Homo sapiens: one gene and its partners. The protein of the gene in region 4 interacts with the protein of the main gene of each other region in a pairwise test. Each region holds a gene or a part of one and is shown on either strand. Other genes may lie near its edges. The genes, in order: HIBADH, CD53, TMPRSS2 and CNIH2.

Evidence for each region.
Region 1: the proteins of CNIH2 (region 4) and HIBADH interact in binary tests that used the Homo sapiens proteins (3 or more experiments, as listed by UniProt).
Region 2: the proteins of CNIH2 (region 4) and CD53 interact in binary tests that used the Homo sapiens proteins (3 or more experiments, as listed by UniProt).
Region 3: the proteins of CNIH2 (region 4) and TMPRSS2 interact in binary tests that used the Homo sapiens proteins (3 or more experiments, as listed by UniProt).

Annotation. Positions count from the first base shown.
Region 1 is NC_000007.14:27,540,879-27,547,928, reverse strand, and holds part of HIBADH (3-hydroxyisobutyrate dehydrogenase, mitochondrial isoform 1 precursor), read left to right. Parts: intron 1-4,828; coding exon 4,829-4,962; intron 4,963-7,050.
Region 2 is NC_000001.11:110,876,148-110,883,147, reverse strand, and holds part of CD53 (leukocyte surface antigen CD53), read right to left. Parts: exon of another isoform or gene 5,514-7,000; coding exon of another isoform or gene 5,463-5,513; intron 1-5,462. UniProt on the Homo sapiens protein: Structural component of specialized membrane microdomains known as tetraspanin-enriched microdomains (TERMs), which act as platforms for receptor clustering and signaling.
Region 3 is NC_000021.9:41,470,151-41,477,200, forward strand, and holds part of TMPRSS2 (transmembrane protease serine 2), read right to left. Parts: intron 6,471-7,050; coding exon 6,427-6,470; intron 3,347-6,426; coding exon 3,175-3,346; intron 1,832-3,174; coding exon 1,656-1,831; intron 594-1,655; coding exon 498-593; intron 1-497. UniProt on the Homo sapiens protein: Plasma membrane-anchored serine protease that cleaves at arginine residues. Participates in proteolytic cascades of relevance for the normal physiologic function of the prostate.
Region 4 is NC_000011.10:66,281,125-66,284,706, reverse strand, and holds the end of CNIH2 (protein cornichon homolog 2), read right to left. Parts: exon of another isoform or gene 3,202-3,582; coding exon of another isoform or gene 3,133-3,201; intron 2,449-3,132; coding exon 2,380-2,448; exon of another isoform or gene 2,354-2,379; intron 1,975-2,353; coding exon 1,927-1,974; intron 1,673-1,926; coding exon 1,560-1,672; intron 1,460-1,559; coding exon 1,316-1,459; intron 1,138-1,315; coding exon 1,110-1,137; 3' UTR 501-1,109; downstream 1-500. Other genes in the region: protein YIF1A, read left to right, coding at 1-70. UniProt on the Homo sapiens protein: Regulates the trafficking and gating properties of AMPA-selective glutamate receptors (AMPARs).

The DNA of each region.
Region 1 (7,050 bases), on a different chromosome or scaffold from region 4:
AAGGCAGCCACAAATATTTAGGCTTTTTAGAGTTAATGTAGTTACATGAGAAAATTTTCTTTTTTCTCATTTGGAACAATTTTTTTGTGCAAAGTAAAACATGCCATAGTTTTGTGTATTAATATAATAAATGTGGGAAAGTGGATGATTATGAACTTGAAAACCCAAAATTATCATAGAATTTCAAAAGCTTAAAAGGAATTCAGTGATGATTTTCTCTAACCACTTCACATCCTAGATGAAGAAACAGGGTGAGCAGCATTTAATGACTTGCTGGAATGATAGAAATGCTTTGTCTGTAATCCTTGGCATCTTGTGCATATCTTGTGAGAGCAGTTATCACATGGTATTACAGTCGTTGTCTGTTTCCTTGAGACTTTCCTTCTCTCTTGCCTCCTGAGAATCTCTTATGTACTAGAGCTAGTGGATGTGAGTGAATGAGCCAACAATCACTGCCCTCATGGAGGTAGTGTTATTCTAGGGGATACAGACCAGAAACAAATGAAACTGTTAAAGAGGTGATAAATGCTATGAATAAAATTGAAGCAGGAAAAGGAGAGAGTGATGAGATGCTATTTTAGATTGTTAGGTTGAGTGGTCAGGGAAGGCCTCTCTGAAGAGGTGAATTTTGAACAGAGGCCTGAATGAACTAAACTATACCAGTCATGAGTATCTGGGGGAAGAACATTTCAGGCAAAAGGAATAGCAAGTTCAAGGCTTTGAGATGGGAACATACTTCACCTGTTTCAAGAACAGCAAGGAGTGCAAGGTGGCTGGAAAGCAGCAAGTGATGGGAAGAATGATATGAAATGAAATAGGAGAGGTAGCCCAGAGCCACATCATGTAGGGCTTTGTAGGACTTGGGATTTTATACTGAGAGGGCTAGGAAGTCTTTGGAGGGTTGGGAATAGGGAACAAACATGAGCTGGGTGAACTAGATTTATATTTTAAGAGGATTCCTCTAGCTGCTATATGGAGAACAGACTACAGAGACAAGAGGAGAAGAGAAATAAAGTAGGAGACTATTGCAGTAATCCAGGCAGGAGTTACCTGTAGCTCAGACCGTGGTAGTAGGGATGGACAGTGAGAGAAGTGGCTGAATCACCAGTGTGTACCTTCTTAGGAGCAGGGACATTTGTGATTCATCCTTCACCCAAGGGCTTACCACAGGGCCTGATTCTTAGCAGGTGCCCAGTTAATTGTGTTGAATAGATAAAACAAATGCAGATTTCTTGTCTTTCCCATTCACTATGCTGCCAGAGAAAGATTTTGCAAGAAGTCTTCACAGTGATGTCATCTTAACATAGTGGCTGTAGACCACTAAAGTTCTTCTTGACCTGTGCCAGCCTACTTCTGTTATTTATAGGTGCGGCCCAAACCCGCTAATACTTAAAAAGAGGGGCTAAAATTATCCCAGAGAAGACAATGGCTTAAGTAACTAAATAGGAAAATGCCCACTTCACAAATTCAAGTTAAAAAGTAGTAAGCCCTTACATTTAAATAGCATTTTTAGCTGGTCACGGTGCTCATACCTGTAATCCCAGCACTTTGGGAGACCAAGGCAGGAGAATTGCTTGAGCCCAGGAGTTTGAGACCAACCTGGGCAATAAAGTGAAACCCCATCTCTACCAAAAACAACAACAACAACAACAAAAACAAATAGCCAGGCACAGTGGCACATGCCTGTAGTCCGAGCTACTCGAAAGGCTGAGGTGGGAGGATTGCTTGAGCCTGGGAAGTTGAGGCTGCAGTGAGCTATGATCATCACACTCCAGCCAGGGTGACAGAGTAAGACCCTGTCTCAAAAAATAAATAAATAAATAGCATTTTTATTTTACAGCATACATTCACATATTCACAGCCAATCTATGAAGAAGTTATTAATACTTTTCCTGTTTTATACACTGAGACTCAGAAGTTAAATAATTTGTCACACAATTTGCCAGCAAGTGGCACATCCCCAAAACAAAATATAACATTTCCAGATCTTTTACCCTTTCTACCATGCTATTTATCAGCCAACCATTTGTTGAGTATATCATGCACTATAATAGATAATGGGGATGCTGGCAAGCCATGACCTCAGTGCTGACTTTTTAGGAAGTTTATAATGGAGGAATCAGACAAGAAAATCCAAGATTTTAATAAAGTATGATAAATGCTGTAATAGAATCAAGCACAGGGTGGATTTTGGTTTTGTATATATAATTAATAAAATATATGTAAAATAAGTATTTCTTTCAGTATTCTAGCAACTACCCGAGTATGCATTGTGTGTTTTTCTATTTTAGAAAATGGACTAGAATCAAAATGGCGTGTCATTGTAATAAATTTCTTCATTTTTGATAGACATAAACATCTATACAATGTCTCCTGAAATCCATAAGCTGTCTTACACAGTTTTAGAGTCGCAGCTTTCTAGGTATTCTTTCCTAAGTTCAAAATGGTTACATTTATTTCAGGATAATTTCAGTCTTTTTGTTTTGTTTTTGAGACAGGGTCTTGCTCTGTTGTCCAGGCTGGAGTGCAGTGGTGCGATCTCAGCTCACTGCAGCCTCCACCTTCTGGGTTCAAGCAATCCTCCATCTCAGCCTCCTGAGTAGCTGGGACTACAGGCACATGCCACCATGCCCAGCTAATTTTTGTATTTTTTGTAAAGACGGTTTCGCCGTGTTGCCCAGGCTGGTCTCAAACTTCTGGGCTCAAGCAGTCCACCAGCCTCAACCTCCCAAAGTGCTGGGATTACAGATGTGAGCCACTATGCCTAGCTAATTTAGGTCTTTGGCTGTGGGACTAGGCTTGATAGTGTTATATGATTAAAGGAATATGTATGAGAAGATAAGATTTGGTTCCAAGGAATGTCAAAACTTTAGAATTACCCATTTTAGTTAGATGCTTACTTTGGGATGTAGGTTATGATGAAGTCGGAAATAATTATGATACCACATCAATATGAGGAAAGAGTCGAACTACCACAGACCTCTGAATTAAAAGATAAATTATTCTTTCTTTTGTGGTCTTCTCTTGCTTAAGCAACTTATTTCTGCTTTTTAAAATATGTGTTTGAATAAGTGAGAAAGTACACCTGTCAAAAGACTAACCAGCTGAGAACCATTGTCAGCATTAATTTTTTTTAAATAAATGACTCCGAAGCTATTTAGCAGTCTGTAATCTAAATACAAAGCAAAACTATTGATCTATGATGGATAGTGCTGGATTTGCTTGTAAGCTTTGACTTAAATCGTCTACTTAATTTCTCTAGGTGAGATCAACAGGATTAGGAGGAATGGTGGTTATATGGTTTAAATAAAAATGTCTAGAAATTGAGCGAAATAATTATAAAACATTAATGGTTTACCATCTTGATAAAGTAAACTAGAAACTAACAAAACAGCAGTCACTTTAATGTTATAAGAATGTTTGAATGACATAGATTGGCTAATTGAAAGCATTTTTTATAAATTGGGTTTTTGTATATAATCCAAAGTGAAGATATTGTAAAATGGTGTAATTTAACCATATGTGTGAGCATCTCAGGTTTTCATAACATGTGGGCACTCACTCTTCCAAGATTGTTTGGCTAGCATAATGCTGACTTTTTTGGCTTTTAATAATTGCTTATGAATAGTATAAACTGTAAAATAGAAAGCTATTTGATTTGACAATAGCAAAATATTCACAATTTGAATGAAATAGGTATCTCTTCACTTGGGCTTTTAAAAAATATATAAATACTGTATTTCATTGAACACATTAAATCCAAAAGCAGGCCATTACCTGCAGCTGTCTAATGGCCAGATTTGATACATACTACAGACAATTACAGTTTCTTTGTTCTTACTGTACTGTAAAATAAGTTCTTCCACATACTTGCCTGGGAAGTTTTGAAAAATAAAGCCTAACTTGAAAATTATGAATCAAGATTTCTTTCAATATTAAAAACAGTAATAGCGCTCTTGGTTTTATTTTATAGTTAATAAAAATTTAGATGAATGAAGCTTTTCCTCTCCCTTTTAGGACAAGTCTAGATTATATTTTCTGTGCTAAATTGAAGGTTCTTTCTCCAATCATTAGAATGAATGAACATGCATTAAGCCTCTGTTAAAAGCTACTAAGGAGTAGTGAAGTCAGTGTTAAAGTTTATTTCTTCTTCTTGCTCATATCACTAAAAATAAATTGCCCAAAAGATGTATAGCAGGAAGGAAAAGAAAAATCAAATAATATTGAAAAGTACATATGAGAATAATCAGTCAAAATAAGCAAAGTTTTCCTTGCCTTAAAAAAAGAATCTACCATCTGAAATGCCTACTTGTTTAAGGAACAAAGAGCCAGGTCTCCCTCTTTGTAGATCTCACTTATAGATAGTATTTGGAGAGTGGGTGAGTGAGCAAGAACCCCGAATCCAAACGTGGGCAGCAGACCTCTCTCTGGCTGCTCCTTTGCTGATCAGGGCCCAGGTAAAACTTTTTTTTTGTATACTTTCTATAACTTAGTAGGTTTCTTAGGAGAATAATAGATGCATGGGAATAATAACATTTACATTTTAAGTTCCCTTATCTGTTAGGCCATGATTGTGCCAAAATGATTAAGGTGAGTTGAGATTGAGAGTACAACTGAATCTGTATGTCTCTCTTGGTTTGTGATTAATCTGGGTGATACTTGATTGCTGAATATTTCTGTAGAGATTTAGAGTATCTTATACATGCCTGGCATAAATACAGATTGGAGGCAGGATGTTTTTAGTTGGTTTCTCTAATTTTATTACCTGCCTAAACATTTTAAGAAATATATTCTTTTGCTTCTATCCCTTTACCCCCAAATGATTCAGGTGTAGGAGCTGCACGATCTGGGAACCTCACGTTTATGGTGGGAGGAGTTGAAGATGAATTTGCTGCTGCCCAAGAGTTGCTGGGGTGCATGGGCTCCAACGTGGTGTACTGTGGAGCTGTTGGGACTGGGCAGGTAAGATTTTTACATTAATGACCTTGACTTGATGATGTAAAATTGACTAATGTTCCTTTCTCTTTCCTGACCATATTTTTATTCTTCTTTCTTCAACCTATGGATTCTTTGCTCAGATTTTAAAACATTTATTTGGAATAAATTAGTTTTGCATCATTCCTGGTGGGCTTAAGCAGACATCAGCCAATTTACTTATTTAAAAAACTTCCATTATTGGCCAGACGTGATGGCTCATGCCTGTAATCCCAACACTTTGGGAGGCTGAGACAGGAGGATCACTCAAGCCCAGGAGTTTGACACCAGCCAGGGCAACATAGTAAGACCCCATCTCTACAAAGAACAAAAAAATTAGTCGAGTGTGGTGACACACACTTATAGTCACAGCTACTTAGGAGGCTGAGGTGGGGGGATCACCTGAGCCCAGGGGTGGGGGATTGAGGCTGCAGTGAGCCATGATAGAGCCACTGCAGTCAGCCTGGGTGATAGAGCAAGAACCTATCTCAAAAAAAAAAAAAAAAAAAAAAAAAACGGGAAAAAAAATTCATTATTAGGATCTTGACATGTCTGTCATCCCAGCAACTAGTGAAATCATCCTTAAAACTGCTCTTATTCGAAGTGCTTGTTTCTGAGTTGCTATTTTCCTCCATCTAATTTTGTAATTACAGTTGACCCTTGAACAACACAGATTTGAACTCCATGGGCCCACTTATACATCTATTTTTTTTCCATAGATATATTGAAAATTTTTTTGAAGATTTGTGACAGTTTGAAAAAACAGATGAACCACATGGCCTAGAAATATCAAAAACATTAAGAAAAAGTTAGATATGTCGTGAACGCATAAAATATATGTAGATAGATACTAGTTTATAAATATGCACAAATCTGTTATAAAGAGTTAAAATTTATCAAAGTTTACAAATATTTATAGACCATACATGGCACCATTTACAGTTGAGAGAAATGTAAAGAAATGTAAAGATGCATTAAATCATAATGGCATAAAATTAACTCTAGTAATACTGTACTACTGTAATAATTTTGTGGCCACCTGTTGCTATTGCAGTGAACTCAAGTGTTACAAGTATTGAGCATAAAATGTCATGTGACACTAATCATCTTTGTGTGAGTGGTTCATCTCTTTAGTAAATTGTGTATCATAGTAAAAATTGATCTCTTGGAATTCTCTTGTATTTTTTTATCATGTTTAGTGCAATACCATAAACCTTGAATGACACCATGGGACCCATACAAAGTGCCACTAGTGATGCTGGAAGTGCTCCTAAGAAGCTGAGAAAAGTCATGACATTACAAGAAAAAGTTGAATTGCCTGATACATACCATGGATTGAGGTCTGCGGCTGCGTTTGCCCTCCATTTCAAGATAAACAAATCCAATGTAAGGACCATTGTAAACAAAGAAAAGAATAGTCATGAACCCATCACTGCAGCTACTCCAGCAGGCTTGCACTTTTTGCAGAACATCTTTTTATCTCACATTGAAAATGCAGCTTTTATGTAGATGCAGGATTGCTGTAGAAAGGCATACTTACATCTAATATGATTCAAGAAAAATATGACAACTTAAAGCAAAAAGAAAGTGAAGGATCTAAAGCTGGAGAATTTAATGCCAGCAAAGGATGGTTTGATAATTTTAGGAAGAGGTTTGCTTAAAAAATGTCAAGAAATAGGCGAAGTAGCTTCTGCCAACCAAGAGACAGCAGACAGTTCCCAGGCGCCATTAAGAAAAAATCATTGAAGAGAAAGTATATCTGCCTGAATGAGTTTTTAATGCAGACAGAAGTGCCCTATTACGGAGAAAAAAAAAAAAAAAAGGATGCTCGAAGGACATTTATTAGGAAGAGAAGCAAGCAGCACCAGGATTTAAGGCAGGAAAGGATAGGCTAACTCTACTGTTTTGTACAAATGCAGTTGGGTTGAAAATCAGGACTGCCCTTATCTATAAAGTTGCTAACTTCTGAGGCTTTAAGTGAAAAGATAAATACCAGCTGCCTGTCTTTTGGTTGTACAGCAAGAAGGCCTGGACGATGAGAACCCTGTTTCTGGATTGTTTCCATCAATGGCTTTG
Region 2 (7,000 bases), on a different chromosome or scaffold from region 4:
CTTACCCTTATATAAGGAGGAAAATAAGTCTGTTTACTCTTAACTACTCTATTTGGCATTGTACTGGAGTTTCTAGGCAGTGCAAATGAAATATGAAAAGAATGGCATCCAAACTGGAAAGAAAAAAAAGTAAAACTGGCTTTGTTCACAGATATCATGAATGTCTTTGTAGAAAATCTAAATAAATCTACAAAAATACTACTAGAACTAACAAGTAAGTGTAGCAAGGTTGCTAGAAACAAGATTCAATCCACAAAAAATAATAGCATTCTATGCACTAGTAACCATTAGAAATCAAGTATTTTTAAAAGTATCATTTACAATAGCATCATATATGAAATACTTAGGCATAAATCTGACAAAAGTTGTGAAAGAATTGTACACTGAAAACTTAAAAACAAACATTGCTGAAAGAAATTGAAAAGATGCAAATAATGGAGAGATATACCACGTCCATCTACCAGGAATTCAATATTTTTAAGATGTCAATTCTTCCAAATTTATCTATAGATTGTAATCCCCATCAATATTACAGCAGAATTTTTTGTAGGCTTCAAGAAATTAATTCTAAAATTCATTTGGGAATGCAAAAGACTTAGAATAGTAAAAATGAGTTTGATAAAGAACAAAATTGGAGTACAAACACTACCTAATTATATTGCTTTCTATAAAACTACAACAATAAAGACAGGATAGCACTGGTGTTAAATAAATATATCAAGAGAACAGAATAGAGTCCATATGCATATGGACAACTGATTTTCAAAAAAAATACAAAATTAATATATTACAGAATGAAGAATACTTTTTTCAACAAATGGTGCTGGAACAATTGTCTATTAATATGCAAAAATGAACTTGCATTTATACCTCTCTCCATACGAAATCGTAACTAGTGATGAATCATAGATCTAAAGGTAAAATCCAAAACTATAATTCTCCAGAAGGAAATATTTGCAACCTTGGTTATGCAAAGAGTTCTCAGATAAGACACCAAAAGCACAATAAGTTGATAAATTGGACTTCTTCAAAATTAAAAACTTCTGCTCTTCAAAAGACACTGTTAAGAGAATGAAAAGACAAGGCACAGAAGGGACAAAATATTTCCAAATCACACAGGAGATAAAAGGCATGTATCCAGAGTATAAAAACAACTCTTGAAGCTCAATGGTAAGAAAATAAACAATCCAATTTTTAAAATGGGCAAAAGATCAGAACAGACAATTCACCAAAGAAGATACTATATGGATGGCAAATAAGGACATGAAAAAAATTCTCTACTTCATTACTCATTAAGGAAATGCAAATTAAAACCATGGTAAGATACCACTCCACATCTCCTAGAATGGCTAAAATGTTTTCAAAACCTGACCACACCAAGTGTTGGTGAGGATGTAGTGAAACTGGAACTCTTATACACTGTTGGTGGGAATGTAAAATGGTATAACCATGTTCAAAAGCAGTTTGCTCGTTTTGTACAAAGTTAAACATATACTTATCATATGATCCAGCCATTCTACTCCTAGGTATTTACCCAAGAGAAATGAAAGCATATGTCCATACTAGGACTAGTACAGGAAGGTTCATAGTTTTGTAGTATTATTTGTAATAGCCCAAACTGGAAGCAACCCAAATGTCCATAAACAAGTGAATGTATAAATAAATAGTGGTATAATTTTACAATGGAAACTACTTAGCAATTAAAAAGAATGAACTGTTGTTACCCTCTACAGCACAGGTGAATGTAAAAATAATCATGGTGAGTGAAAGAGGTTAAATAAAAAAGAGTACATTCTGTATGATTCCAGTTATATAACATTTTAGAAAATGAAAACTAATCTATAGCAACAGAAAGCAGATCAATGACTGTCTGAGGATGAAGGTGGGGGAGGGCAGGAGGTGAGTAGAGAGGGAGCAGGGAAGGGTGAGAGAAAGGGATTACAGAAGGCCACAACAATCTGTGGTGAGTGATGCATACGCTCAGTGTTTTGACTGTGGTGATGGATTTATGCATGTACACTTACGTCAAAGGCCCCTCCTAATTTGCTCCTGTCCATCACTCCACACTCATGGCAACACCCCCTGTATTATACTTTAAAATTTAGCAAAGCAATATTGAATCCTTGTCTTAATGCTTCCTTCCTTACTTTGGTAATGTGTTTCTTTGCTGAAATTTTCTCTTTTCTTTCTGGCCTCTTATTCTGGTTAGTTACTCATCATCCTAATGATGTGTCACTTTTCCAGGAAGTCCTCTCTGTTTGTGTCTAAGTCTTCACACCCAACCCTCACTTGCCCTAAGGAGTATCTGTAATACCTGTGTACCTCTGCCATTGTACTAACCATTTTGTTTTATAAGTGACTATTCCCTCACTAGAATGTGAGCTCCTTGAGGGTAGGATCTATGCTATTCATCTTTGAATTCTCAAAGCCTCATTACCTCAGAATTATCTGATGTAGTGGAATGAACATGACACTGCAGAGTCAGGAGCCTTGGGCTTGAATTTTCAGTCTGCTAATAAACTGATGTTTTGGACATAGGAAAATAACTAACTCACCCATCAGTAACAGAAAGGAATTGAGCCAGATGCCTCCTAGAGTCACATCAGCCCCAACATCCTGGTATCCTGTGACAATTAGTTCAGGCCCGTGTAACCTGATTGTCCACAGAACACCAGCTGGCTAGGTGCCCACAAACTTAGGGACATTCCTACTGATTCTTTCCTTCACAGACAGGAAGAAGAACCTCTTCTTCCTTCCTCTCCCACTTTCTACCTCTCCAGACTCATACTAAATTGAGTAAGAAAATCTTCTCACCTGGTGAAGATTGTCACTACTTTTGCCACATGCCATAAGGGCCCCAGAGAGAATGCTGCTCCGTTTCCCCTTCCCCTTTTCACTGTTACTGGGCAGTGATTAAGCCTCCCACCCCTTCCAACTACCATCTAGAGGAACCGACACCCCTCCCACAGTCAAAGTCTATGACTCTTAGATGCATGACTCATGGTTCTATGCAAAAAGCCACCAATATCAGTTTCCAGGAAACCTGCGTGACCAAACTGCACTTAACTGTGGCTACCTTCCACAACTCAACATGGAGGTTAGGGATCAACTTTGCTCTTTAGTTTCCTCCAATGGGCTTGAGCTGGTAGAACCTGCGGATTTCTAATTCCATCCCTGTCTTTTTTTTGACCTGTACTAACAGCACCATGTAATCTACTCTTGAATTTAATCAAGCTTAGAAGTGGTTAAGGTTGGATAGAGGCTTCAAGAACCTCGATCAGGCTCGCCATGGTGGCTCACACCTGTAATCCCAGCCATTTGGGAAGCTGAGGTGGGAGAAGCCCTTGAGCCTAGGAGTTTAAGACCAGCCTGAACAACATAGAGAGACCCTGTCTCTATTTTAAAATTTTTTTAAGTTAAAAAAAAAAGAACCTCTATCAGTTCTTCATCTTCAGCCTTATCTGATCCAATATTACAAGCTAGGCTGGAGCCACATAAGACAGCTTTGGTGCTACATAGACCATTACGCTTATGAGATATTAGTAAGTGCTCCTCAAACAAAAGCCAAGATAAAGAAAAAAAAACAGTGTAAGAGAAAAACCTGTTATATGCTAATGTGCACTGTGAGTCTCTAAGACAAAAATATGTTTATATAACTACAAACCTAGTTTTATGTTGCAGATCACTTATTAACAGGTCAAATAACATAGTATTCTGTGGAACACAGTTTGATAAACACTAGCTTTGGAATCAGACAGGTCTAGTTTTGAATTCTGTTAGTGCTACTTATCAGAAGTGTGACCTTGGGCAACTTGCTTAACCTGTCTTTCACTATATCTTTGAAATAGGGTTATTAATACTTACCTCAGAGGTTGTTCTGAGGGCTAAATGAGATACTATTTCCAGGATGGCTCAGTCCCTGTGTATCTGCCTTATTCAGTGAAAACTCACTGAAAGATCAAGTTCAGACCTTACCTACCAGTCCATTCCTAAGGGTAACCCTTAGCTTCTAACAGATTTTTAGGAATAAAACATACACGGGGCAAGAATAATCCCTTGCTTGTTTCATACGTTTTAAAAAGAGGTTTCGTGTGCCATTTGTAAAAAAAATAAAAAAACAAAAAGAAATCAAACAATAAAGAAAAGCACATGTTTTTTTTCCATTTGTACCTATTAGAACAAATTGAAAATGTTAAATTTCAGTAATAAAAGATAAATAAATAAATGCAAGTACAGTTTCTGTAAGACTTCCTTTCAGTGAAGAAAAGCGTTTAATAGAAAAACACCTTTGTATGCTAAGATTGAGAATACGTTATTAGAACACATTTCTTTCTCCACTGAACTCTGTTAAGACATGTTGGAAAATCCCAGCAATAAAAGGCAAATGTAAGCACAGTTTCTTTAAGATGCATAAATTGTTTTCTTTCAGTGAATGGAAGTGTTTGGTAGAGAAACACCTTTGTAAGCTAAGATTGAGAATATATATTATTAGAACACATTTCTTACTCCATTCAAACCTATTAGAAAAAGTTGAAAAATCCAGCAATAGAAAGCAAATGTAAGCATGCTTTCTTTAAAAAAAAATTCTACATTTAAAAAATAAAGAAAAGTATAAAGAAGAAAGCATAAAATCTTCTGAAATCCCACCTCCCAGAGATAACCATCATTAGCATTTTGGCAAACGTCTTTCCAGACACTTCTCCATATACATTTCTCTATATACAGATTGTCAATTTACATACAAGAGCATTCGCAAGGTAATTACGGCTCCCTATCCCTTCCTACACAGAGCCTGTGGCAGTCTTTGTTCCTTAGCAAAGACAATTGAGGCTGTGATTAAGAAAAAGTTTTTCTAAATAGGAGCGAAAATCTGCCCCAGTGAGGGCTCCCAAATGTAGGCCTTGCTCAAACAAACTGAGATACATAATAGATAGTTCACTGAATCCCACAAAATAACTAAGTTCCTCATAAATGTCTTATTTATAATCCTCAAATCGGCCTGACAACTTAGGTGTCATTAGCCCCATTCTGCAAATAGAGAAGCCGAGGACTGGCACAAGGTCACCCAGCTAAGAATCATCAAAGGCAGGGTGAAGGCCAAGTTCTTTCAGCCTCCAAAGCCCATGCTCTTTCCACCGTCCCAGGCTCTGGTTTTGTGCCTATTACTTCCCAACTCATTTGGTGCAATGTGTTGAGCATCCAGGAGAAGACCTTCCATTTTTCATCAGCTCGTTTGAACTCCTGTGAGCAGTGGCTGAGGTGCAATCAAAGTTATCGCTGTACGTCCTTTTGAAGAGTAATAAGCAGTTGTAGAGGAAGAAGTAGGGGTAAAATAAAACGAAGCCAAAGCATCAACTCTCATGTATTCGTGTCCATTCATCTCTCCATCAACTAATCAAGGAATATCTGTTATCTTATTCCTTCCTAAAATTGTAATCTGATAAAAATTTTGTTTCTTCTAGGTCGCTGTTAGGGGAGAGGATTTGGCGATTTATAGAAGAAGAGAGAAATAAGGAAGAAGAAAAGAGGAGAGAAAAAGTGAAGAAAGACAAATCCAGATGATCTTGGAAGCTCACTTCCTCCCATGTGGGAGCTTAGCAAGATACTAATAACAGCTGAGGTGGGACAGGGACTCTTCTAATAAGCTTACTTCGTAAATCAGGAACAGTTACCTAAAACAGTTAGCACTGTTACAGAGTCAAGAGACCAGAGGTTCTCCGTCCTCCTAGGTAGAAATATGCAGAACTTTACATACGGGGTCCCTCGGCTAGAGGCCTGTCCATGGTGTCTGCAGGCTGGCTATGCTCAGATTAAGCAAGACTCTTTGTGGGATAAGAAAAGCCACTTTGTTGGTATTCCTATCAAAAATTTAAATAACCTGAATCTAATCATGAGGAAACATCAGATAAACCCAAATGGAGAAACATTCTAAAAAAGAACTGACCTTACTCTTCAAGAATATCAATGGCAAGAAAAATTCAGGAAGTGTTCCAGACTAAAGGAGACAAAAGTGACAGTTGAAGGCAATGCGTGACTAGAAATTTCCTTTTGCTATAAAGAATATTAAAGAGGTAATTGGTGGAATCTGAATAAAGTACATAGATTGTTAATTATATTGCATAAGTGTTAATTTCCTGGTTTTGATCATTGTAAAGTAGTTATATAAGAGAATGCATTTGTTTGTAGAAATATACACTAACATTCTTAGGGGAAAGGGCATCAATCAAATTACTAATTACTGTCAAATGAGAGAGCCAGAGAATAAACAAATGAAGTAAAATGTTAATATTTTGGAAATCTGGGTGAAAAGGATTTAGAAATTTTTCATAATATTTTTTCAACCTTTTTATCAGTCTGAATTTTGTCATTTTTTTAAAGGGATGGGAAATAAATAAATGATCTAAGGGATTCTCATCTCAAAATCATTACAATTTGTCTTCTATGTTATAAATACTGAGATTCTACAATAGTTATTTTAAGAAGACTAAACTATGGAATAATTCTTGAATGCCTTTATTTGCTCCTGATATAAGGTAAGCCATAAGTTCAAATTTACTTTAACAAGTAAACTTTAACAAGTTTTAAAAGATATGAGGCATTAAAATCATTTCTTACCCCTATTCCTCAATCTAGTTCTCCTGAAATAGAAAAGGCCAAACAAAAAGGTTTGGAAAATAAAATATATGTTAAGTATTTAGTTTGCTAGCATAGTAGCTTAAGATCAATTACATTTACAATTAAGTGGTATTTTTATGTTTGCTTATGTTAAAATGCACTAGGAATTTATGTAAATGAAGAATACAGTCTAATGATGCTTACTTAATAAAAAATCTCTTAGAAAAGGGACTATAGTATAATGTAGAAGAAAGAGCATGCCATAGAGAATCAGAAGACATTCTGAATAACTATTAAGTAATTTTATGATTTTTGGACAAGTCATTTTACCTGAAAAGTAAGCAGATTGGACAGTTGCGACAGCTCCTATTTATTGGCTCTCATT
Region 3 (7,050 bases), on a different chromosome or scaffold from region 4:
GCTCCCTTCATTTGAAAGACTGTCAGAGAGAAATGCAGATTGCAAAGGAAGTGGGTGGAGAGAGCCTCTCTCTGTGGTTATCAGGGCAGAGGACAGGCTTAGATGTGGCCACCATGGGTCCAGGATGCCCGTCCTCACCAAGCCCCCTGTCACTCAGCCACGCAGGCCTTGGTGGGATCTCCAGGGCAGCTCTAAACTCACAATGAGTGCAACACAGGAGATCCTGCACCTCTAAACTCGTATGGCCCAGATACTTCAAAAGCCATTCCACATGCTGCTCTGTGTGATCACGATAAGAACACAGTGTATTAGGTAGGCTGGGCAGGATTTCTCCCACTTAGCAGATGGAGAAACTGAGGCACAAGGACTGGGGGAATCAACCAAAGTCATCCAGTCATTGAGTAGTAGAACTGGGATTAAAACCTGGACCTCCCACTTCCGAACCCAATGCTCCATCTGTGGGCCCTGCAGTCCTGTGTGCCCAGGAGCAGCCTCACCTTTCTCCTCGGTGGCCCCCCACCCGGAAATCCAGCAGAGCTGTTCTGGCTGCAGCATCATGCCTGGGTTGGGCAGACACACTGGTTTCACTAGGTCTGTTTCAAGAAGAGAAAACACAGTGAGCCAGGCGGGTATCACCTATGTCTCCACCTGGCCTTCCCACATGCAGGCTGCTGGGCCTGGCACCCTGGCCACCCTGCCCAGAGGACCCTGCATCCCAACAAGTCCCACATTCTCACTTTCTCCCCCTGCCAGACCTCTCCTTCTGGCAGGCAAGACGTTATGCTACTTATAAGTAGAATTATTTGCTAGCTCTGCTTATAAGAGGAATTATTTGCTAGCTCTGCTTCCAAAATTACATATCTCCAGGTGATCAAGACGGGAAAGACACACAGGAGGCAACAGCCAAAAAGCCGATGGAGTCAATGGAGTCAGCTTTCGCCCCAGAGGCACCACGCCATTGCTCAGGCATTCGCTCTTCTATATGTGAACCATTTCCCAATGTGAATACAGACATGCTGTAGGGAGGGCTGAGGTTTTGCTTCTTCTGTATCCACATGGGGCTAGAACATTCCAGACCCTTGGATGGACCAGAGTGGGACCGAATAAGAGGCTAAGAGAAAGCATGTTTGTCCTGAATTAAGCAACTTGGTTTTAGAATGTATCTTTAAAAATCAAGGATCTTTACACATTTTAGGCCAGTAGTTCTCAACTGGAAGTGACTTTGCCTCAAAGCGGATGTTTGGCAATGTCAGCAGGCAACACTGGTTGTCACAGCTTGGTAGCTACTGGCCTCCAGTGGGTAGAGGCTGGGGACGCTGTTAAACATCCTACAAGGCACAAGAGAGCCCTACAACAGAGAACCACCCAGATGTCAAGGGTGCTGCAGTGGGAAAGCCCTGTTCTAGCCTTTTCCATGCCTGGCTTGAATCACCACCACTCAGTACAGTACAGAACAGATGTGGTGGCTGCTGCCTCCCCCAAAATGCGGCAGGTGCTCTTAGCCTCTGTGAGCCTCTCCCATTGGCCACCCGCTGCACGCTACCCTCGCTCAACGCAAATGCCTCCCTTCCATTTGGCATAGCACAAGTGTCATTTCCAATCAACATCTCTTTAAGATTCTGCCAACCTGCTTGCCAAGCCTGAGCCACACGTACCGTTGAAAGTCAGAGGCTTCTGCAGCTTCATCAGCGCAATGTCATTGTTCTTGGTCTTGGAGTCATAATTTGGATGAGAAATCACTTTTTCTACTTGGTATCCGGCTCCATAGAACATGAAAGATTGTCTCAAAATCCCCGCAAATGCCGTCCAATGCCATGGATTGTTAAGAGGTCTGGGAGAGAAGAAGGACTCAGTATCTCAGAGCCATAAACACAGAGCTCTCAGTGGATGAACTTCCAACGTCAGAAGCTGGAGGCAAGACACCCAGAGGCAGGATGGTTCACCAAAAACCACACAGGGAGATAGTGGAAGAGGTGCTCGGTCTCCCCTTCTCCCCCACACTCCCCCAACCCCGACTCCCTGCCTCAGCCCCCCACATCATCCTTCTTTCTGGCTCTTGCATCACCTTCAAGGAATCTGCAGCACCCACAATGGGCCGACATCCCTCCCTGGGGTTTCAAGGCCATTTCTAGCAGGACTGGCCCTTATTTTCCTTTGTACGCCAAAGCATTTCCTGGCACATGGTAGGTGCTTAATAAATGGATACTAATGAACAGACTTGTCCGATATCAATCAAACCATTTCCTTTATCCAAGAGTTTCCCTCTTAAGAGAATCCCAGCTCCTAGTGGGCCCAGAGCACCCAGTGGTGTGAAGAGGGGGAGAGAAGGGAGCACCCTTGGGTAACAGCCCTTGAGAGAAACCCAGTTCCTAGAGGGCCCAGAGCACCTGGGGGTGTGAAGAGGGGGAGAGAAGGGAGCACCCTTGGGTAACAGCCCTTGCTTCCTTGACCTTCATAACAGCCCGAGAGGAGAAGGGCATGCCCATCTTATAGTTGTACATGCCATGGATCAGAGACGTTGAGTGAATCGTCTAAGGGCACGCAGCAAGAGAGGGCTGGGCCAACAGTCAAACCCAGTTCAGCCTCTCTCTAAGGCAGAAAAATACATCCGCCAAGTGAGGCCTCCTCCAAAGCAGCATGTGACCAAAAGCACTATGTGTTTAAGGAAAAGGGGAGGGGGTGGTAGCGTCCATAAATGCTAATACTGTCACGGCTAGCCTCACCCCTACCTAACCCTCTGCATGAGCAATGCTGTGGCCAAGAACGCTTAACCCCAGGGACCTTCCAGCAGGGCAGCCTGAAGCCTGTCTGAGTGTGCCCTCTCCTGGGACTAGCGTCCCGGAGACAGGATACCTCAGGGGGCAGGGGCTTTGCTCAAGGGCAGGACAGAGCTCAGAGGACAGTGGCTGGAAGGAACGCTGGTCACGGCGACATCGTGGAGAATGTTCCACCTGCACCCTGTGCCCTGCGTGCAGGGGACACTCAGTGCATACAGCCATGCACTGCCTGGCATGAGCGCACTTGATGTCTCACAGCCCTAGGAAGCAGGTGCAATACTCTCCCCATTTAAACACAAGGATGCCGGGGCTGCAAGGGTTGAGACCTGCTCAAGGTCACAGGGTGGCTGTAGGCCAGCCCTGAGCCCCCACCCGGCCCGCGCCGCCCCTGGCATACTTTTCCACGCAGTGGGCGGCTGTCACGATCCACTCGGGGGTGATGATGGAGCCTCCGCACACGTGGACGTTCTGGACGTGCAGGCTGACCTGCCAGGGCCAGGCCCCCGGGAGCGCGCTCTCGCCGCCCACAATCCTGCTCTGGCGGCTTGAGTTCAAGTTGACCCCGCAGGCTGAGGATGACAAACAGGAGGCCAGTGGGGTGAGACCAGCAGAAGCCGCCCAGCCACCCAGCGCCCGCCCCTCCCAAGGGTCTCCCAGGCTGCAAGGACAGGGCAGGGGCACCACTGCTGGGGATGGACTTAGGGGGCTCCTGGGGGTCTCCTCTTGGGGAAGGGAGGATGCCCCTCCAGCCCACCCAGACCCAGGAAGCACCACTTCCCTGAACACTCCTGTGATCCCATGGGGTCTCCCGGGACCCAGGTGGGGGTGTTCTGGATAACAAGGCCCTGGGGACTCCTTGAGTCTTGGAGGGACTGACACCACTCAGGGACCCCAGATTCTCACACAAAGAAAAGGAAGATGGGAGGGGCAGGGCTGGAAGTGAGTGAGGGGGTGAGGAGACGAGGAGGTGAGTGAGAAGGTGAAGGGGTGAGTGAGGGAGTGAGTGAGGAGTGAGGAGGTGAGGGGGTGAGTGGGTAATTGAAAGGATGAGGGAGTAATTGAGGGGGTGAGGGGGTAATTGAGGGGGTGAGGGGATAAGTGAGGAGGTGAGGGGGTGAGTGAGGAGGTGAGAGGGGTGAGGGGGTGAGTGGGGGGTGAGGGGGTGAGTGTGGGGTGAGGGGGTGAGTGGGGGGTGAGGGGGTGAGTGGGGGGTGAGGAGGTAAGTGAGGAAGTAAGGGGGTGAGTGAGGGGGTGAGTGAAAAGGTGAGGGGGTGATTGACGAGGTGGGGGGGTGATTGACGAAGTGAGGGGGTAAGTGAGGGGATGAGCAAGGAGGTGAAAGGGTGAGTGAGGGGGTGAGGGCATGAGTGAGGAGGTGAGGGGGTGAGTGAGGAGGTGAGGGGGTGAGTGAGGAGGTGAGGGGGTGAGTGAGGGGGTGAGGGGGTGAGGGAGTGAGTGAGGGGGTGGGTGAGGAGGTGAGGGGGTGAGTGAGGAGGTGAGGGGGTGAGTGAGGGGGTGAGGGGGTGAGGGAGTGAGTGAGGGGGTGGGTGAGGAGGTGAGGGGGTGAGTGAGGAGGTGAGGGGGTGAGTGAGGAGGTGAGGGGGTGAGTGAGGAGGTGAGGGGATGAGTGAGGGGGTGAGGGGGTGAGGGGTGAGTGAGGGGGCGAGGGGGTGAGTGAGGGGGCGAGGGGGTGAGGGGTGAGTGAGGGGGTGAGGGGGTGAGGGGTGAGTGAGGGGGCGAGGGGGTGAGTGAGGAGGTGAGCGGGTGAGTGAGGAGGTGAGGGGGTGAGTGAGGAGATGAGGGGGTGAGTGAGGGGGTGAGGGGGTGAGTGAGGGGGTGAGGGAGTGAGTGAGGGGGTGGGTGAGGGGTGGGTGAGGTGGTGAGTGAGGGGGTGAAGGGGTGAGTGAGGGGGTGAGTGAGGGGGTGAAGGGGTGAGTGAGGGGGTGAGGGGGTGGGTGAGGGGTGGGTGAGGGGGTGAGTGAGGGGGTGAGGGGGTGAGTGAGGGGATGAGGGAGTGAGTGAGGGGGTGGGTGAGGGGTGGGTGAGGTGGTGAGTGAGGGGGTGAGGGGTGAGTGAGGGGGGTGAGGGGTAAGGAGGTGAGGGGGTGGGTGAGGGGTGGGTGAGGTGGTGGGTGAGGGGGTGAAGGGGTGAGTGAGGGGGTGAGTGAGGGGATGAGGGAGTAATTCAGAGGGTGAAGGGGTGAGTGAGGGAGTGAAGGCATGATTGAGGGGGTGAAGGGGTGAGTGAGGGGGTGACTGAGGGGTGAAGGTGTGAGTGAGGAGGTGAGTGAGGGGGTGAAGGCATGAGTGAGGGGGTGAATGGGTGAGAGAGGGGGTGAGTGAGGGGTGAAGGGATGAGTGAGGGGGTAAGTAAGGGGTTGAGGGGGTGAGGGGGTGAGTGAGGAGGTGAAGGTGTGAGTGAGGGCGTGAGGGGGTGAGGGAGTGAGGGATTAGTGAGGGGGTGAGGGGTTGAGTGAGGAGGTGAGCAGGTGGGTGAGTGGATGAAGGGGTGAGTGAGGGGGTGCAGGGGTGAGTGAGGGGGTGAGGGGTGAATGAGGGGTTGAGTAGGGGGTGAGTGAGGAGGTGAGGTGGTGAGTGAGGGGGTGAAGGGTGAGTGAGGGGGTGAGGAGGTGAGTGAGGAGGTGACGGGGTGGGGTGAGGGAGGGATGAGGGGGAGAGTGAGGAGGTGAGGAGGTGAGTGAGGGTTGAGGGAGTGAGGAGGTGAGTGAGGGTTGAGGGAGTGAGGGGGTGAGTGAGGGGGCGAGGGGGTGGGTGGTGAATGAGAGGTTGAGGGGGTGAGTAGGGGGTGAGTGAGGGGGTGAGGGGTGAGTGAGGTCTGCTGCCTTCCCTGCTTCCTGTGTGTGAGTGTCTTCTCCACCAGGAGATGAGTGCATGGGCAGAGGGCAGGGCGGGTGCCACGCACCCTTGGGGCTGTGCTGGACCCCCACTCAGGACCTAAAGAAGACCTGAGCCAGCCCTGCCGGGATGGGACGGTGTCAGCTCCTTCCACCTCTTCAAATGAAAAGCTGAGCTCAGGACCACGGCCCCACGACAGCACTGGGCCATCCCAGAGGAGAGGGACGGTGGCTTCCACATTTGCAAACAGTTTGGAAACTGTAAGCACTCTAAACACAGAGATGGGGACACCCAAGTCTAAGCCACCGTCCAAAATTCAGGAGAGAAGAGGCAAGAGCACTGTTGTTCTCTGGTCTTGTCCCTCCTCCCGGGTCCCACTGGCTGATGAGCACCTGGTGGCCACACGGTGGTGCTGGACCACAGCCCCGCAGATGCTCCAAGTCCACGTTAGGTGGCTGCCAGGGCTCACTAACGCCACCCCCCTTTGCTTTCTGGAGAAAGAGACCTGCCGGGCCTCCAGCTCATGGGTGGCATAAAGTGTAGGGCTTTGTCAGCTTCTTGAGCGTGCCTGATCTCAGGGGGTGTCCCTTGGACCCAAGGCTGAAGGTGTCTACAGGCCATGGAAATCTAAACCAGGAGCTCCTTGGAAAGAGCGAGACGCCGCTGGGCACATTCCAACCCGTGACCCCACCTTCTTCCCTCCCACGCCCCCAGAGACACAGGGAGTACTGTTCTGAAAGTAGAGAGCTTTTCCTAGTTAGAAGTATCAAAAGGGGGACTCCAGATGAACTTACCTATACAGCGTAAAGAAACCACTGCTTTTGAAGAACAGGCATCACTGCAAAAAGAACAGGGGAAATTCTGGTCACGATAGTGCGGAGTCACCTGCCTCTCACATGCTTAGAAATCAGTCATTTCTTCCGATGTTCCCTCTCCTGTCTTCTGAGACATAGAAGGGTCTGCTAGTTACAACTCCAATAAGGTAAGTAAATCCATATAGGGACAGTGGCAAAGACCAGACACTGAGCCAAGGTACGCGGCTCACATCCCCACAGTGTGACCTTGGGCAAGTTACTTAACCTCTCTTAAAATTGTACCAGCTCCTAGGACGGTTGTGAGGGTAAGTATACAATAATGCTAGTTTTGTTTTTCCTCTTGGAATTTAAAATCATCTTCTAATTTTTAAGGAAGCCATTTGGAAACCTCTGGGCTCCTATAACTGCTTTAAATTTGTAGTGTTGAAAGCAATATAACCAATAGTTTCCCTAGGATTAGAAGAAACGTAAGAGTTACTCATTTGGGAGTCAAACATCCCAGGTTATGGATGAAGAGGAAGTAACTGATGCATTTTGTCCTGCAGTGAATTTCCCAGGCTATGCTGAGAAGGGAAGACGCGGCCCCTGGCATGCAGAGCTGGC
Region 4 (3,582 bases):
CCTGACTCTGGGAGCTGCAGCCTTCCAGCCCCTCATCATATACTGGCTGACTTTCCACCTGGTCCGGTGACCCCCTGGCCCCAGATGGCACTGAGTTTTTCATTCATTGAAGATTTGATTTCCTTGACTTTGTCTGACCCTTGTTCCTGGGGCCTGATGGGGAGCTACAGATACCTCTGCGCCTCTGCATTGCCCAGGGGATCGGGCTTGGGGCCGTCTAGGAAGAAGGTGGACCCAGGGAGGGCTTCATGACTTTGGTGACCTTGATACTGCCTTGTAAGGGTTTCAGCAGCCTCAGCTGGGAAAGAGAAGATGGAAGGAGGCTGCTGAGGGGACCTGGAAGGCGTCTGATCCCTCTGGGGGGCTCCAGCAGGGTCTGTGGGCTAGTGGGGTGAGACAAGCCAGGCTGGGGATTCAGCTTAGGGCTGCCCCCTATACAGTCCCTGTAATCGGCCCCCATCTCCTCTTCAAGCTTTCCAGGAGCAGAACCGGGGCCCACATATTTGCAGTAGTTTATTCATATTTTGTCACAAATGGCCGGGGAGGGGGTGCCGGACTCCTCCAGGCGACATAGAAAATAGGTCCAAGAGACAAGGTGGGCTGAGGTTGGGGCAGATGGAGACAGGGCTGGAGAAAGAGCCTGGGGGAGAGGGGAGGGCAGACTAGGGGTGGGGCTGCCCCCCTGCTGAGCCTGCTCATTCCCGGTGCGGGTACCCCCCCACCTGCAGGGGGAGCCTCAGGGTGGGGGTGGAGGGGGATGGCCCAGAATTTCCAGGGTCAAGCTCTGCCCCTTGGCAGGGCCCAAGTTTCCCCCGAAATGGACAAGGCCGGAGGTCCTGCCCCTTCCAGGAATGACTGCCATGCCCACAGGCTGGCAGAGGAGCCCCTGCCCCTGTTTAGAGCTCTGCCCAGCCGCTCTAGTCCAAGGGGGAGGGCTCTGAAGGCGGGGTGGGGGGGGTTCCCCGCAGCAGCAGTTTGGGGGTTGGAGAGGCTGGGGGCACCAGTGCCCCCTCCCTCCCCAGGGCTGAGGCCTCTGCGGCCAAGGGGCAGGGCTGGGGGTGCACAGGCGTCCGGTCCGTTCTGGGCTCGCTCCCTGGCCGGCTTCCCCCTTAGAAACTCACCAACGTATAAACCATACTGTAGGAAGATGAGCCAGTGAGCCTAGCCCTGCACACACACAGCCACCCAGATGCCCACCTGGTCACACCCTGGGCTGCCCTCAGTCCTCAGGGGCAAAAGGCAGGAACTTGGGATTGGAAGCGTGATGCTGGGACATCCCTTCCCTGAGTTCTGACTGCTGTGGGCAAGGCCTCACCTGTACAGGTAATAGAAGAAGGAGAGCAGGTAGAAGGCAAGTTTGCACCAGGACTCCTTCTGGCAGTAGTTGAGAATGTCAGCATTCATGATGGAGACCGCATCATACATGACCTCAGAGCCATCTGCAGGACGGTGGAAGTACCTGGGGCAGACAGGGGCCTGAGTGTCTGCCATCAGGACTCCCACCCCCATCCTGCCCCTGTTCCCCATCTCAGCCTCCCCAAGGCAGCTGCTACCCTCACCTCCAGAGGTGGTAGAAGAGGAGGGGGATGTTGAGGCCCAGGGTCACCCACTCTGCTGCACACAGAAACATCAGACAGAAGAGGCCGTGGATGGAGTATTCTGGGACCACCAGCTGGGGGAGTGAGGGTGAGAGGTCAGCGGCCTGGTGCTATGACAGACCAGCCTTCAAGGGGACAGAGAGGAGCTGGGGTTTGGGAGGTGCCCACCCACCGTGACCTCTGGGGATTAAAAGGCCTCTGGCTTCCCACTCCCTCCCAAGTAGAGTGGATCAAACAGGCCCAAAGCAGGGGAAGGCCTGGTTCTGGGCCACAGACAGTGGGGGCAGCGCTGGGCTAGGAGCCTCCTGCCCCCAGCCCTGACACTGACCTTCCTCAGGAGGCAGCAGATGCGTTCGATGTTTTTTAAACGCTCGCGCTGTTGGGGGAAGGAAAAGGCCGCGATGGGGTGGCGGAGAAGCAGGTACTGGAGCAGCTCCCACCGCTCCACATGTGGCCGCCAGGGGGCGCCAGAGCGATCTCTGCGGCACTGTCGGCACGGCCGGGAAGCAGCCGCGCCGTCCCCATGGCGACCGTCACCATGGAAGGGCCTTCACCCGCGTCTCCATGGCAACGGCCCAGAGCCTGGCAACCACCGCCCCGCCAAGAGGAACTCAGCCCTGAGCCCGCGCCAGGTGTTTGCTGGGGGCGGAGACAGAGAGGAAGGGGGCATGGCCGTAGGCCCCCCACCCCACCCCCGTCTTCCCGTCTCCCACCCCCAGCCCACGACAGATGGAAAGACAGACGGACGGACACACCTCGGCACAGCACATGTATCACTTACTGCCCGCGCAGGGTTCCCCTGGTCGATGGGGTTCTTGAAGTCGGTCCGCAGCTCATCAAAGGCTATGATCTGGGGGAGGGGCGTGTGCCCGTCAGGGTTGGGGCAGCAGCTTATGGCCTTCCCCCAAGTCCTTCTGTGGGATAGTTTACTGAAGAGGACCAGCCAGGTGGAGCTTGTTGCAAAGGTGGAGAAACCGAGGTCCAGGGAGGAGCAGGGCCTGGTCCAAGGTCATTACAACAGTCCAGAAGGGAACCCTAGCGTCTGGATGCCCAGTTCAGGCCCATGTCCACTACACCCCCTTCCAAAACATCCCAAGACATGGCTTCGTGTCTGCCCTGCCAAGTCTCAGGCCCTGTGCTGAGCACTGGGGCTCCAGAGGCCTGGGATGCAGCCCCTGCCCAGGAGGAACCCAGGCCCAGAGGGATGATCACTCTGCCTTCCAGGTGATCAGGGTTTGGGGTACAGGGAGGACCTGGAGTGGGCGCTTAACCCTGTGTGGGGGGTGAGGGAGTTCAGGCTGGACTCGGAGTAGGTGTTGGTGAGCAAATGGGGGAAATGCAGTCCAAGCAGTAGAAGGTGCAATGGCAGAGGGGTGAAAGGTCAGGAGACATTCAGGAGGCTGCGGGTTTCATGGGGCTGGCGTGACAGCGCAGCGAGCAGGAAGAAAAGAGAGAGTGGTGGAAGAGGAGCTGGAGAATTCAGCAGAGCCAGACATGGGCGCCCTGTGAGGCCAGAGCAGGAGTTTGGACTTACTTTAACACAAAAATTTTGGGGGGAGGCATTGAAGAGTACACAGCAGCAGAGTGGGGTGGTCAGGTCCATGTCTTAGGATTGGTCCATGTCTCAGGATTGGTGGGGCAGGAAATCCGAGCTCACTGACAGTCACAGCTGAGATCTAAGTGGTGCTTCTCCTGGCCGGTATGTGGATTCACTCATTTAATTCTTAACAACCTTATGACTTAGGTACTAGTTTTATTTTCATGTCTGTTTTGCAGATGAGGAAGCTGAGGCAGGTTAAGTGACTTGTCCAGGGCCACACGGCTGGTTAGTGGATTCTAACCCAGTGTGACTCCAGAGTTAAAATTCCTAACCACTGTGTCATACTCAGGCCAGACCAGCAAGGGGACGGTTTGGAGGGTTAGGGGCAGGGCTGATGGTGGTCTGAGTGAGGAGAGTTGTAGTGGAGACGGAAGGCGTGCATGG